Regions from separate parts of the Homo sapiens genome. Here all the other regions are reported to be linked to region 2. Evidence: microRNA targets listed by miRTarBase, many of them from high-throughput screens and not tested one by one. Region 2 holds a microRNA gene; each other region holds the end of a gene's coding sequence.

What was found. The annotated mature microRNA hsa-miR-601 reads UGGUCUAGGAUUGUUGGAGGAG and lies in region 2 at 2,006-2,027, shown strand. An mRNA with a match to its seed (bases 2 to 7 or 8) in the 3' UTR can be bound and repressed. Matches are read on the target gene's strand: a 7mer-m8 pairs with bases 2 to 8, a 7mer-A1 pairs with bases 2 to 7 and ends in A, and an 8mer does both.
Region 1: miRTarBase lists CLN8 as a target of hsa-miR-601. Seed matches in the 3' UTR shown: 7mer-m8 at 1,833-1,839 and 7mer-m8 at 2,137-2,143.
Region 3: miRTarBase lists CCDC90B as a target of hsa-miR-601. Seed matches in the 3' UTR shown: 8mer at 3,738-3,745.

The regions. Positions count from the first base shown.
Region 1 is chr8:1,779,557-1,784,631 of GRCh38, forward strand. It overlaps CLN8 (CLN8 transmembrane ER and ERGIC protein), which reads left to right. Exons shown (of 3, transcript NM_018941.4): 3 at 694-5,075. The coding sequence ends at 1,011. Among named protein-coding and RNA genes, the nearest start is that of CLN8-AS1, 18 kb to the left of the region's middle. RefSeq lists an enhancer at 4,157-4,656.
Region 2 is chr9:123,399,519-123,404,593 of GRCh38, reverse strand. MIR601 (microRNA 601) reads left to right here and starts at 1,991; the gene lies at 1,991-2,069. DENND1A (DENN domain containing 1A) reads left to right here. Exons shown (of 24, transcript NM_001352964.2): 21 at 1,104-1,192. RefSeq lists an enhancer at 1,367-1,988.
Region 3 is chr11:83,257,543-83,262,617 of GRCh38, forward strand. CCDC90B (coiled-coil domain containing 90B) reads right to left here. Exons shown (of 9, transcript NM_021825.5): 9 at 1,539-4,424. The coding sequence ends at 4,369. It also overlaps a transcript of ANKRD42 not described here. Among named protein-coding and RNA genes, the nearest start is that of CCDC90B-AS1, 26 kb to the right of the region's middle. RefSeq lists a silencer at 365-659.

The sequences.
Region 1 (5,075 bases), not on the chromosome of region 2:
TTTTGCCGGGGAGGTATACTGTATTAGTCAGCTCAGGCTGCCACAGCAGACTGCCATAGACTAGGCAGCTGGAATAGCAGAAATTCCTTTCTCACAGTTTTGGAGGCTGCAAGTCTGAGATCAAGGCACCAGCAGATTCATGTCTGGTGAAGACCCACTTCCTGGTTTACATGGCCACCTTCTGGCTGTGTCCTAGCATGGAGGAGGGGAAGGCTCTGGTCTCTTTCTCTTCTTATGACACTAATCTCATCATGGGGCCTTACCCCCATGACCTCATCACTTCCCAGGGTCTAGGTATGGGAGCTTGATATACCTGTGTCTGGTTTTGCCAAATAAGTATTGTTTATTTACTTAATATGAGAAAATTCAAGATAAAACAAAGATTGAAGGGATACTGAAAGAAAGGTTGAATTTATCATAGCTTTAGGGAGCAGAAGCCAAAGAGCAAGAGGAGCAGGAAAACAGCATGAGCGGGCAAGGGTCAGCCCTGCTGGCCCAGGTGCGCCCACAGAGCTGGTGGCCTCCTTTCAGAATGAAGTCCCAATGAGAGCAGAGCCCTGGGGAGGAAATTCTTTTGCTTTGAAATGAATTTGTTTTGTTTGGTAAGTAAGGTAGCAAATACCTTTTTGTGATGTGAAGAATGAATTTTGGCAGTTTCGCATTGACTTGTGCATTTGTCTTCTCTCCATGCAGGCGGGCTGGTCCGAGTCTCTGTTTTGGAAGCTCAACCAGTGGCTGATGATTCACATGTTTCACTGCCGCATGGTTCTAACCTACCACATGTGGTGGGTGTGTTTCTGGCACTGGGACGGCCTGGTCAGCAGCCTGTATCTGCCTCATTTGACACTGTTCCTTGTCGGACTGGCTCTGCTTACGCTAATCATTAATCCATATTGGACCCATAAGAAGACTCAGCAGCTTCTCAATCCGGTGGACTGGAACTTCGCACAGCCAGAAGCCAAGAGCAGGCCAGAAGGCAACGGGCAGCTGCTGCGGAAGAAGAGGCCATAGCTGCTCCAGCCGGGGCTCCGGGGCGGCAGCAGAGCTGGCACACCGATTCTGGGAAGCCCCGCGAATGATGGCTTTTGAATTAATGAGGCAGTGAATGTTTTGTGTTTACTTCTAAGGGAAATACTAACTTTCTTTCGCATTAGTATTAATTTTGAAGTAGCTACAAAGTATTTTTAAGAAATTATAATTTTATGACTGTCTGGCAGGCTCTGTCAGTTTAGCCGCGCCGGACCGTGTCAAGCATCTAGGAGAGGAGTCCATGGTGTCCAGGCATCGGGGCGTCACACCTGTTGAGGAGTGGGGTGGCTTTGAATGCTGGAAATGGCTTCATAGTGAAGTGCCTCCCACAGGGCGGGTGGGTCAGCGTTGACTCTTTCCAGCTGCACACTCATATGCCGTGTGTCTTATTCAGAAGTCACATTCTTTTCAGTTGGAGAGAATTGGGCTAAGATAGAAAATAACATGATTTGTTCCTTATTAAAGCTTCCCAGCGTATGAAATTCTAAGCTGGGTGGGGTGGCTCACACCCGACGTAATCCCAGCACGTTGGGAGGCCGAGGCAGGTGGATCACTTGAGGCCAGGAGTTCGAGACCAGCCTGGTCAAGATGGTGAAACCCCATCTCTACTAAAATTACAAAAATTAGCCGGGTGTCGTGGCACACACCTGTAATCCCAGCTATTTGGGAGGCCAAGGCAGGAGAATTGCCTGAACCCGGGAGGCGGAGGTTGCAGTGAGCTGAGATCGCACCACTGCACTCCAGCACTCCAGCCTGGGTGACAGAGCAAGACTCTCTCTCAAAAAAAAAAAAAAAAAAAAATTCTAGACCGAAGTGTACGGCAGTGCCATCTGGTGGCAAGTGGTACAAAGACAACGCTGAGGGGTAGTGACTCCTGTAGCAGCAGAGACGCCTTGGAGTTTAACCCCCACCAACCAGAGCGTGGGCTGGTAAAGATGAAATCTTGCAAGTTTTTTTTTTTTTTAAATCATGGTACCTGTTTTAAAATGAGAAGTTATTATTCATACTGTGTTGCTCATTTGACAAAATAAGGTAAGGATTTCATAATCAGGTTGTCTGGGTTTCAGAGCTGTTTTTAATTGACTGAGTTACCTACAGGCACCCAATCTAGACCCTAATTCTGTGGTTGGTGTTCCTCTGTAGATTTCAAGACAAGTAGTGATGTCATTTTCTCCCTGAGCTGTAGGGTGGACCTGGACCCCTCAGAGATGCTCGACTGCAGGGTCCTGGGGTCCCTAGAGTGGTCCTGCAGCAGCCCCTGGCAATGAGCTGCCTGATGATGAGTCCCAAGGTACATTGTTCTACTGTTTTATACCCAGGTAGAAGTTACACAGCAATTTAGCAATGTTGTTAACAGACATACAGAATTGTGTGTGTGTGTGTGTGTGTGTGTGTGAGTGTTTTGATATAAACGTGCAATTAAAATTCAAAGTTTATTTTTTATCACAAGCACCTTTGAAATGTACGTGGAAAACGTCGGCTGCTCGTGAGAATCATGTGTGACTTACGTTCCTTATGTTTTATGGAACTCTCGGAACAGTGTTTTGTTTTTGTTTAGTTTTTGTTTTCGTTTTTTTGAGACGGAGCCTGGCTTTGGCTCCCAGGCTGGAGTCCAGTGGTGTGATCTCGGCTCACTGCAACCTCCACCTCCCGGGTTCCAGGGATTCTCCTGCCTCACCCTTTCAAGTAGCTGGGATTACAGGTACCTCTACCATGCCTGGCTGATTTTTTGTATTTTTAGTAGAGACAGGGTTTCACCATGTTGGCCAGGCTGGTCTCTGACTCCTGACTAAAAGTGATCTGCCCACCTCGGCCTCCCAAAGTTCTGGGATTACGGGCGTGAGCCACTTCACCCGGCCCGGAGCGGTGTATTTTGATTGCTGGTGCTTTAACTATATTGACCAAGGTGTATAGTAACCTATTTATCACATTTTACGAAGCAATTTTAATCTTAAACACATCCAGCAAATGGTGTCCCTGCTGAAACTTTTAACTGGAAACCTCACACCTGGCAGGCAGCACTCTCTGCAGCCGTGCCCTTGTGGAGTCAGCAGGAGCTGGTGTTTTTCAGCCAGACAGAGGCATAATAAAGTGACTGATGTTTACAGAACCCAAATGATGTCTTCCTCTCTCTCAAAATAAACTAACCTATTCATATTGCTGTGAATGCTTTATCTTGGAGATAGAAAATATAATGATAAATTCATCATGTGTTCAGAATTCGATTTGGAGTTGGAAGTGGACAGCCTAATTTTTATCTCACCTCCACTAGGACTTTGACCTTCCCAGGGGTCCACACTTTACCTCCTGTATCTTCATACGCGTGTGTGGATGCATAGAGATGGAGGTGCTGTAGAGAAGCACAGGCTCACCCGCTCCGTCCAGTGTCACCCACACATTGGTCCGGGGACCCCTCAGTGCAGAGCCTGAAGTTGGGGGTTTAGGGGTGGAAAAGGCTTCGTGAAATGTTAATGATGCGTACACCTTCCAGATGGCACAGCACTTTCCCATGGTCCTCACTGGCCTCAGTCTCCCTGACCGGCAGTGTGAGGGGATGTAGCTATAGTGGAGCATGGTACAAGCGACATTCATGAGCTCTGACTTCTTGGTGCCAGGTTGGTGTGAGCCTGGGCCCGGCCCACTCAGCGGCCCACATTGGCCAGCATTCAGCTGCACGTGTGTGCTGCGTGCTTCACATCCTCTATTGAGAGTTACAGCAAGTGTTAAACGAGGTGAGTTCACATAACAGGAATTCTGGAACTGCTTGAAAACTAGGACGATTGGGCAATATCGGCCTTAACTCCACCTGATGGCAGGTGACCCGGATAGAAAATGGCCCTGCGTTTAGCCAGGATGTGGCTCTCCAGCTTGGCTTCAGTGTGATCACTTGTCAGTGCGCTTTCTCTTTCGATAGTGAAATCCTTCTCTATACCTATGTTTTGTTTTGTTTCTTAAGTTGGGAAACAGAATGGGCCAGGGAGGTTGAGTGACTGAAGACCAAGGGTTGGTGCAGCCTCCTCGCCGCGCTGCGGGGGCTGGGCCGCACAGGCTTCTGCCCTTCTCGGTGTCCAGGCTCCTTGGGTGATGCTGGAGTTGTCATGGCCGCAGTTCAGTGTGAGATTTTTTACCAGGTATTGCGCTTAAGGGACATGATTTTCCATTTTCTTCGCCCGGACAACTTGAATGAAATGGGCACTGTTGATTCCACTTCTGTCGAGGAGCTTCGGGGCTCAGAGAGGTGATGACGTGCCCAAGGTGACGCAACTCGTGAACAGCCGTGCCTGCCTTGGGCGCAGCCTCCGGCGCCAGAGCTGGGCTCTTCAACACGGCATTTAGCGCAGAAAGTCGTGGTTCAGGCAGTATGGGCCGCTGTGACAAAACACCTAAGACTGGGTAGTTTATAAAGAACAGACATTCAGGCCAGGCACGGTGACTCACGCCTGTAATCCCAGCACTTTGGGAGGCCGAGGCGGGTGGATCATTTGAGGTCAGGAGTTTGAAACCAGCCTGGCCAACATGGTGAAACCCCATCTCTACTAAAAAAACAAAACTAGCTGGGGGTGGTGGTGCATGCCTGTGGTCCCAGCTACTTGGGAGGCTAAGGTAGAAGAATTGCTTGAACCTGGGAGGCAGAGATTGCAGTGAGCCGAGATCACGCCATTGCACTCCAGCCTGGGTGACACAGTGAGACTCCATCTCAAAAAAAAAAAAAGAACGGACATCATTTCTCACAGTTCTGGAGGCTGGAAGTCCAAGATAAAGGTGTGGGCTGATTAGTTTCTGCTGGGAACACTGCATCCTCACGTGGTGGAGGGGATGGAAGGTCAACAGGCCTCAGCTAGTTCTCCGCTGCCTTTTTATGAGGCATTAAGCCATTTGCAAGAGTAGGGGGCCCCACCTCTTAATACCACCGCAATGACAATTACAATGTCATGTGAATTCTGGAGGGGACACGGTCACACTGCAGCATCAGCACCCGGTGAATGTGGTTCTCTTCCCATGTCCGAATTTTGTGAGCTCCACACGGGCAGGGTTGCATCTGTTTT
Region 2 (5,075 bases):
CTTCCCTGTCTTGTCCTGGAAACTCAAAGGGTGGGCAGGAGGTGGAGTGTGTGCCTGCTTCCCTTCCCTGTCTTGTCCTGGAAACTCAGCAGTTGTGGCATCCCATCCGTGGAGAAAGCAAGCCCCCTGCCCCGGCAGGCTCGGTTGTTTTTATCAGCAATGAAATTCAGAGATAGACTTTCTCAGCTTAGCTCTCAACCCATCCCTCTCGGGCACTGGGAGTGTACAGAGATGGCCATGCCAAATTTAAAGCCATGTAATGTCGACTGGACCAAATGAGTATCCTTCTAAGGGCACCTAGAAATTCTCAGCCTAACATCCATCACGAACTCTGGCAGGGGATGAGGGTGTCTTTCTCTGTGGGCCCTCATGTTCGCTTTCAGAGACAGCGGGTCAGAAAAACCCATCCCGCTGCTGCAGCAGCTGTGGGGTTAGGAAGTTGGGTCCTTCCTGATGTGCCCACTGCAGACCCTCCCACTAGGTCTGCTCAGTGCATGTAGCTACACAAGATGGGCAGCATCCAGGCTGAACCCTGCTGGGAGGACTAGCACAGGGATGCTCTGGGAAGCAGAAAGACGATTTGTAGTGGCACTCTCTCATGCCTCTCTTATTTAGAGAGGAAAATAAGCACCCTGTGATTCTGTTGTAAAAAGAGCAAACTAAGCATGTTCACCCTAAAAACAAGTGTAAGCGCAACCTTTTCTTTCTACAAAACCAGCTTCTGGGCATCAGAGGAAGATGAGAGGGAATTGTCATTGATAAGGGCCTCTTTGTTCCGGGTCCTATGTAGACATCATCTCATTGGACCCTCACCACAGCCCTGCAAGGAGGCCAATGGAACTATCCTCATCTTGCAGATGAAGAAACCGAGCTTTCCAGGAGCACCCTTCTGATTTGAATAGGCCACAGAATTCCAGTTAATGTGTCTGTCTGCTGCCTATTAGATGGTGATGTTTCTGTGATAGGCTGGGCTTTTGTAGCCTGTAGCTTTGAAAATCCCTAAACGTTTTTTGGGGGGGCCGTTTATCCAAATGTTCAGAATGTACCTGTATGGCTTTTCCAACTCACTCCTTCTTGGGGCTCTCCCCCTGTACCTCCTCTAGGTGCGCCCACCTCGTCCACATGTTGTTAAGAGACCAAAGAGCAACATCGCAGTGGAAGGCCGGAGGACGTCTGTGCCGAGCCCTGAGCAGTGAGTATTGTGCCTCTCCCCTCTGTCTGTAAGAACCCTGTGTCTGCGGAGCCAGCACTTTGCGAAGCCCAAGCGTGTAGCCCCGGCCTTTGTGAGGCTTCCCCGGGGCTCCCAGCGGGTGTTTCACAAAGGGGTCATTCAGGGAACAGGACTTGATCTTTTACTCGGTCTGGTTGTCACACCAGTGGGAGGCCCCAGAGGCCAGGGAGCCGGGCACTTGGGCTGGATTTCGAGGGGTGGGGTCCAAAGCATACTTTGCTGGGTTCAGAAGAAGGTCCTAGGCCTCTTGTGCTGAAGATGCCGAGTCAGTAGGTGAGGGTTAGAACCTGGTGAAGGAGGCCAAGTGTTGAACTGGATCCACCCACCTTCCTAGGCCTCCATGGCCGAGAACCTATATACAGGACTGCCCTCATCCACTGCCCCAGACCCACCAGGACCCTTTGCCCACCTGTGCCGGAGGATTTATGTTACTGTGGTTTTTCTTACCCATCTCCCTGAGACGCGGAGCTCCCTGGGTGTTATGCCCAGCACCTCCCGTAGGACTGGCCTAGAGTCACCTGCTCAGGAGGCGTGGGGTAGATGAAGTGAATGAGGGGGGCAGAAAGACAAGCAGTGGACTGAAGTGGACCTGCCTGTGGTGGGGTGAGGCAGAAGGCTGCAGATAGCCCCGAGTCCAGACCAGAGCCATCTGCAGAAGGTAGCACTGCTTCCCTTTGTCCGCAAAAGGAGCACAGCCCTCAGTCTCTATCCAGACAACTCAGCGGCTACACGCTGACTTCCTGTGATGCCTTGAAAAAGTGCATGAGTTCGTCTTGGTCTAGGATTGTTGGAGGAGTCAGAAAAACTACCCCAGGGATCCTGAAGTCCTTTGGGTGGAAAGGGGGAGGCCCCCATGTCTGTCTGGCTCTCAGAAAATGGGAAAGAAGGTAAGGGACATGGCAGGTCCCAGTCAGAGTTGGAGCAAGAAGGAAAAAAAATGATTTCGAGCTGTCAAGCTGGGGCCTAACCCAAGTTGCAGTTCACTTCAGCTCTCCAGGATTTTCTGGTTGATAGCGAGGGTACGGTCTTTAAGGAACCAGCCCACCCAGACAGCCCTCAGACTTTGCCCAGAAAGTTCCAGAATTATATGTGTGCGTGCGTGTGTGTGTGTGTGTGTGTGCACGTGTGCGCTTGCACACAAGGATGCTCAGTTATTAGACATTTGGAAGAGAGGACTCCTGAAGCTGGGTTAAGTTTAACTTTTGCTCTGCACAATAGCCTGGTGGGAACATGAGGGATGGATTATGATTGCCCCCTTATGGAGAGAACGCTGCATGGCACCTGAGTGCCTCGGACTAAAGATTCCTCCTTAAGGGGATGAAATTTGTCACATTTCTTTGAAGTCCCCTCTTTAAAACTGGACTAAACCTTTTAGACACTGTACCAGGATACAGGGTCACAGGCCTGTTGATATTGAGATGTAAACCCAGAATATTCTTGCATTACACAGAAACACCATTGCAACACCAGCTACACTCCACATCCTACAGAAAAGCATTACCCATTTTGCGGCCAAGTTCCCGACGAGAGGCTGGACCTCTTCATCACATTGACTTACGCCGTTGCTTTTCCAGACTGGGCAGAGGGGCTGACTTCGCAGTGTGTGCCAAAGAGCCGGTGTCTGATAATCCCATTTTCCTGCTTATCACCTGAACTGTGTCAGTATCACTTTTAGTTTTGTTGGTTGGTTGGTTTGTTGTTTGTTTAATATGCCCTGTTTTCTACTTCTGTTGGAAAATATTTGGGGTTGAAATAAACCAGTGGGAGCATGGGAGCCAGTTTGGTGGTTGGCAAACTACCAGTGATAGAAAACAAATGACAGGTTTTCTGTGAGCGTACGTCACAGTGGCTCGGGCCCACAAGGAGACAGAGGGGTACGTTTCAGGACATCATTCCAAGGGTTTCTGTTCACGTTTGTTTAACGAGGAAGGGGAAGTTGTTCTCCCATAATACCAGTGGTATTTCTAGTGCAACCCGGGTGTTTTTCTACGCCTCTTCCCATGCTGCTTCCCCACCCCCCCACTGTGCTCCGCCCCTTCCAAATGCCATGTCACAACAGCACTTGGATGTGTTTTTCTCAACTGTCATCAGCTCCAGCTGGCAGGACCAACTTCTTGAAACACAGGAAGCATCCAGCGGAAAATATTTTAATAAAACAGACTCCTCATAAAATATTGTTCGGGGGAGGGGGAAGAAACCGGCTCCACCAATCTGTCGGCATTGTATTGGGAGATGTGAGAAGCCAGGCTGGCAGCAGGGGCCCGATCCTAATGGGCCTTTGTCAGGTGGTGGTTCCGTGTTGGGCACACGGACTTGGTGCCTGGCCCTTTAATCTGGCCTGGGTTTTCTTGAATCACAGATCTTCATCTCCACTGGGAATATCAAAGTGCTTGGGAAACTTAGAAGACTGGGGCAGCAGAAGGGGATGCAGGATCTTTGAAGTGGAGAGGAGAGATTCATTCCTCCTGACTTCTTGCCCCAACTCTCACTTCCAATTGCACATTAAATAATCCCAGCACTTTGGGAGGCCAAGGCGAGCGGATCACCTGAGGTCAGGGGTTCGAGACCAGCCTGGGCAACATGGCGAAACCCCGTCTCTACTAAAAATACAAAAATTAGCCGAGTGTGGTGGCGCACCCCTGTAATTCCAGCTACTCGGGAGGCTGAGGCATGAGAATCACTTGAACCCAGGAGGCGGAGGCTGCCGTGAGCTGAGATCACACCACCACACTCCAGCCTGTGCAACAGAGTGAGACTCTGTCTCAAAAATAAAATAACCAGCTTTGTGGACAGCAAGATGGGGCTGATTAAGAGTAAGACTGTCTCCTGGAGTAGCTGAGCATCCTGGGACTCATCAGGGCCCAGAAACACTAGCCAGCCACTCTCTGGCCAGTCCACCCCTGAAGTTCATTTCTTCCTTCCCAGCTGATGTCCATCCCTCCATCATTCCATCTGTCCATTCGTGCATTCATTCATTCAGCAAGTATCTTTGAAAACCTACTAGGCGCAAGCACGGACGATTTTTTTAAAGGAGGCCTTAAAAGGGAGTCCCCATGCTGACTCTTGGTTGACTTGCATTTTCCCAAAATGAAATTTTCCTGTGTCAAATTTTCTTTCTGAATCAATGATAGGTTTCCTAGTCCCTTAAAACTGGCCGTTGGCAATTGGAAGAAGACTTTTTTGAAGATTTGTGGGGGAAACATTCCCTTTACTTTTCAGGTAACATTACTTGGTTAATATTCAGTTACTAAATCTCTTCAAGAAGTACTGGCTACTTCCATTACTATTCAGAGCACAGCTGATGTGACGCCCAGGGGCTTCCGTGGGGCAGGGATCGGGGTAGGAGGGATCCTGCATGAGAGGCTGTGGGTCAGACACCAGTCAGCAGGGGGCGCGGTGGAGCACCCATTGATTTCTAGGCCCTCTTGGGCTAGCATCGTTTCTTCCCGAGTGGGAGCTCAGGCCCAGAATGTGGATTTGACCAGTCTTCCCAAGGTCACCCAGTTGAAAAGTGGCCAGGCCAGCATTCAGAATTCTTGATTTCATTCTCTCCATGACATTCTGATGCTGTCCTTGGAACGGGGCCCTTCAGGGTTCATCTTTAGTCTGGCTTTGCCCAGAGAGACAGCTCCACATCCTAAAATGAGATGATGGCCTGCCCAGCAGGCCACCCTTCCTCTCTGGCTCCCTGAAGGCTGGAGTTGGGAACCGGATCTGTTCAGTCTTCTCACCGCCAAAGAAACCATGTGCACTGGTGCCTGAGTGTTTCTTCTTGGGGAAGGAAAGAGGAATGACATTCACCAACATCCCTTAAGGTTGTCAGAGGTATTAGCCGGGCATGGTG
Region 3 (5,075 bases), not on the chromosome of region 2:
AGGTATATTTTATAGAGAAAGTAGTTGTGCCGAGGATTATATAATGCTGATCTGGGATTCCAACCTTGGCAGCAAAAGTCTGCATTCTCTTAACCATTACTGGGATTTCAAAACCATTTATCTTCCCTTCTGGGACTACAGACAGCCTTACTTTTCCCCTCTAACTTGATGCTAAAGTTAATCCCAACCCTGGAAATAGTTTGTTGTACTTGCTCCAGTTTTCTCTAATTTCTTCCTGTACCAGTGAGGTAGAAAACACCAGAATAGTGTTGTAATAAAAGCATACACACCCTGTGGCAGAGGTTCCCTGGTTGTCCTCCAAAATCCATTCTCCCTTCTTCTGTAGTGGGAAGGATTTATGTGGTCTGTGGCCGCGCAGGATAAGAACTAACTTCCCAGCTTGCCTTTGCAGCCAAGAGACCAAGTTGTGTTCAGAAGGATGTGAGCAAAAATGTTACGTAAAACCTTAGGGTCATGGCTATAATGCCACCTCTTGCTCTTTTCTTCTTCTGGAATGTGGATGTGGTGGTGAGTCAGCCACTGGACCTTGTGAATGAGGGCAACACCAGGATGGCAGAGCAGTAAAATAAGGAGCAAGGGCCCTGACACCATGGAGCTGACATATTAGCCCTAGAATGCTTACATTGGACTGTAAGAGAGAAATAAACCTAATCTTATTTAAGCCACTGCTATTCTGGATCTTGTTACAGCAGCTAAATTAAAATTATAATACAATTCCCAAATTGTGTATATTTATTCATAAATCATATACCTATATTATTGACACATTTAGGTTAATGAAACAAAAAAAAAAGGTTATTAAAGAGATTTAAGTTATTTTGTTCCTATGACTTAGTAGATTGTCCATCTCATGAGAAAGAGTACTCAGGTTGAACCCTACTAGTATATTGAGTGACAGCATGAGAGGGTGAGATTTGGAGTTAAAGACTTGAGTCCCTGTGACTTACTTGCTGGGGGACTGTGGACAAGTTACTTCACTTGGCTAAACTTGTTTCTTCAGCTGTAAAATGAGGATACCATCTACCTAAGAGGAGAGCTGTGAAAATAGGTGAGCACATATATGTTATTTAGCATATTTGCCCTCATATAGTCAATGATAGCTATTTTTTTTCAAAATAGCAATCAGTAGTTTCAGTGATAATGACTACAGCCTTTCCCACTGCCCTTTTTTTAAATATTAAAAAATACTTAAAAAATAAACAAGTGTTACATATCCAAATTCTTCAAGTTTGACAACATTATAAGCTTTTAATTGTTTTTCCAATAGGTGAGGGTTTTTCCTGACTCTTGCCAAGTCCTTACATACTCTTGCCTGGCCTATTTTGTCACCAAAGCAGTATGGATAGGCAGGTTAGGATCTACACTGTGGCTATAAACATGGTGAAAGTAGCTAATCCTTGTGGAGGCTTCTTACCACTCATAGAAAATGCCTAAAAGGTGTATTACGCTCACTCAGTATGAATGCAGTATTTTCAGCATACCCATAATTAAATATTTAAAATATTAAAAAGTTTGGATTAAGGTCAACTGAGATTTATGAGTATCATTTATTCCACAGGCGTTTAACAAGTACCTCACATGTGTCTAGAGGCCTTCTGAGAACTTGTAGTTTAGTGTAGGAAAAAGATACGTATAATTGCTGTTTCATAGTGAAGTGCAAGTGCTGGAATAGAGGTATAGTTTTAAGGCATATAGAAACACAATCCTCTCATCCTTATTTCATATATTTCCATCACTGAAACAAAAATTTACCTGAACCCCAGAACCACCATCAAAATGAAGTTTCATGGAAAGGATATAGGATCTAAAAGTAATGGGGACAGGGTATGGTATGCATATTTCTATTCTTCTGTTATTGGATACAAAGCACTTTGTTTGCTAAACCCCTACAATGAGAAAGAACGCAGATCTATTTAATATTTAGTGGCTGTATAACCTGGGAATAAGTATATTTATTTGTTGGGGCTTGAGAAGGTCCAATAAATGGCATACCTCCTTTCCATTCTGGGTTGTGAATATAACTAAGATGAAGAATGAATAAACTAATATAGAGGCCTAAAAAACACCTTTATTTGCTGATAAAACTATTGGAGAAGTTTTTTTTTAGGAGACAGGGTCTCATGTGTTGCCAGGCTGGAGTGCAGTGACTATTTATAGGTATGATCATGGTACACTTTAGCCTTGATGAACTCCTTGGCTCAAGCAATCCTGCTGCCGCAGCCTCCCAAGCAGCTAGGACTATAGATGTGTGCCACTGTGCTCAGCAAGAGAATATGGGTTTCATCTTAAGGCCAGTAAGCTTCTTATCACTGAACTCTAGAACTGGACAGATTTACCCTGTCTCAAGCATTGCTCTACTGGGCCAGGCCTCATCCTGCAGAGGCAGAGCCTGATCCCATAGAAGCAGAACAGAATGAATGTCTCTTCAGATGGGCTGGTCCCAAACAGGAGTGGGGAGGAAGTGGGCTAATTGCACCTTGTTTCTCCTTCCAGATTTACAATTGGGCAAGTCACTTTACCTAGGGCAGAGTGGATAAGGGGATGAAGAGTGACGACAGTGTTATGCTACTGGAGCTTCCTTCACATGGAGGAAAGACGCATTCCCTCTTAATATTTTAGAATATTTTAAATCTTAACAAACCAATAATTTACTTGTTTATGTCTCTCTCCTTAAGATTGTCAATTCAATGAGAATGAAACCATGTTCATCTCTGTGCACACAGGGACTAGCATGCTGTTTGGCATATAGCAGGCAGTCATATTGGTTAACTGAACAAATGCAGTATACTTTGTTACAGTGGACTTTAATATATATGGTAACTTATTAATTGACTCAGTGAAAATTAATCTATAATATACTAAGAACTCTCTTAGGCAATAGAGATAAAAATGAATCAGAATGTAACAGGATAATGTCAAGGTTTTTCTTTTGAAAACAAACCAGCAGTTAGATTTTTGAGGAAAATATAGTTGGAAAGCCTGACTCTCACTCACTGGACCATATGGACCAATCTCTTGACTGCTCTATACTGCAGATTCCCTGTTTATAGCTAAACAAATGACAAGGCTATTTTGAATAATGATTGTCAAACTTTTATAGCTATTACCAAGGCATTATGAACTCAAAATGTTTACTTTCTGGTCTTGTCTTCTTGATCTGGGTAAGACTGAAGAACTAAGATGAAAAGGATATTTTAAAATTTCTTTGAAATTACATATGATTTACTAATAGATATTACTTTGTAAGAAAAAATATATCTAATAACAAAACAAAATACGAATTTAAATTTTCCTATGAGTTTCTTGAGAGTAGGTACTAGATATCAATGTTTGCTGAATTGAAGTCATTAAGAAAAGCTTTGTTTTATGTAATAAATTTAAGATGGGTTAACTTAAACTACATTAAGAAGCAGGGATAAACTGGTTTTTGAGTATCAAATATTTAAAAAATACATGTAATAATCAGAGCTCAATATTTAGCAACTCTACAGATTTCATATTAAGTGTTGTAATTTGCACTAAAGCACACATTTATTTATTTAGGTAATGGAGTCTTGCTCTGTCACCCAGGCTGGAGTGCAGTGGTGCTATCTCGGCTCACTGCAAGATTCTCCTGCCTCAGCCTCCCGAGTAGCTGGAATTACAGGCATGTGCCACCATGCCTGGCTAATTTTTGTATTTTTAGCAGAGACGGGGTTTCACCATGTTGGCCAGGCTGGTCTAGAACTCCTGACCTCAAGTGATCCACCCGCCTCAGCCTCCCAAAGTGCTGAGATTACAGGTGTGAGCCACCGCGCCTGGCCTATCATTTTAAAATTTATTGTTTTAGTTCATTACCAAAAAGAAATCAATCTCCAACTATATGGTAAGTCACTTTGAAAACCCACACAACTTTGTTGTAATAATCTTTCATTTTATAGAAAAATGTAATTATGCAATGGTTATCAGGAAAGTTAATTCAGTAATAAATATGTAGGCTAGGGAATGGTTTACAAATATTCAACCAATACCCACAAAATCCTGTATGATTTACACAACTGTTCAAGCAAACATAAGAAAACTCTGGTTCAATTTCTATTAACTATCAAAAGGACAAAATGCTCTTCTATCTCAAACCAGGTCTGAGTGACAGCTTTTCAATATAATAAAGACACACACCTGCACTCACACACACACAATAAAGACACAGTATCTCTTCTCATTCTAAAACACTTCCTCTTTTAGTCCGTATACACTTCGAATAATCTTGTGTAGTAAATTTTTGCTGCAACTGACAATGTTCAAAGTAAATCTCTCCCGGTTTGGTGTTCTAAGAAGCCAACAGCCACAGCAGGATGAGCATTAATACTACTTCCAGAATCTATAAAATCCCAATGCTATTGCCAGGCAAGTAAACACCGAAGCTGTGAAAAGAAGAAACTGTGTTATAGGTCTTGTATCTGTAATTATTTTGCAGAGATAAAGAGAATAATGTTATCTTTAAGTGAAGAGCAAAAAACAGGAAATCCAACCAATTTTCTATCCTATGTTTTTTATTCCCTAGACAATTAAGTATGAAAGACATTCTTAAGGGCAGCCTTAATGCCTAATTCTTCTTAAAAGCACCTGTATATTAAAATGTAAATTATGTCATTTAGAAACCTATAACCTGTATTTAAAATCATTAACGCTAGCATTATTGACTACTTTAAATAATTATAAGCTCTAATTTCAGATCTCATGATAAATGAAATCTTTCTTATATTAAAAAATTACGTAGTTAGGCTAGTAAAATATACATATATCTGTGAGAAGAGAATTTTAATTGCCTTTTCAGTACATTTTTAAATAATTTCTCATAATTCTTAATAAAATTTTAATAAAAACTCTTTAAACTCAATGAGGTAGAAGAAAAGGCAGAAAAAGCATTAGGTTTTTAAAATAGTTAATATACTACCTGTACTTTAGCTTACATCATTTTGGATAAAAAAAAATTCAGTTTTCCCAGCTTTTAGAAGGTAAGTCTGAGTGAGGCCTTTAGGGACTCCCTAGTCTCCAGTTTGTTTAAAACACCG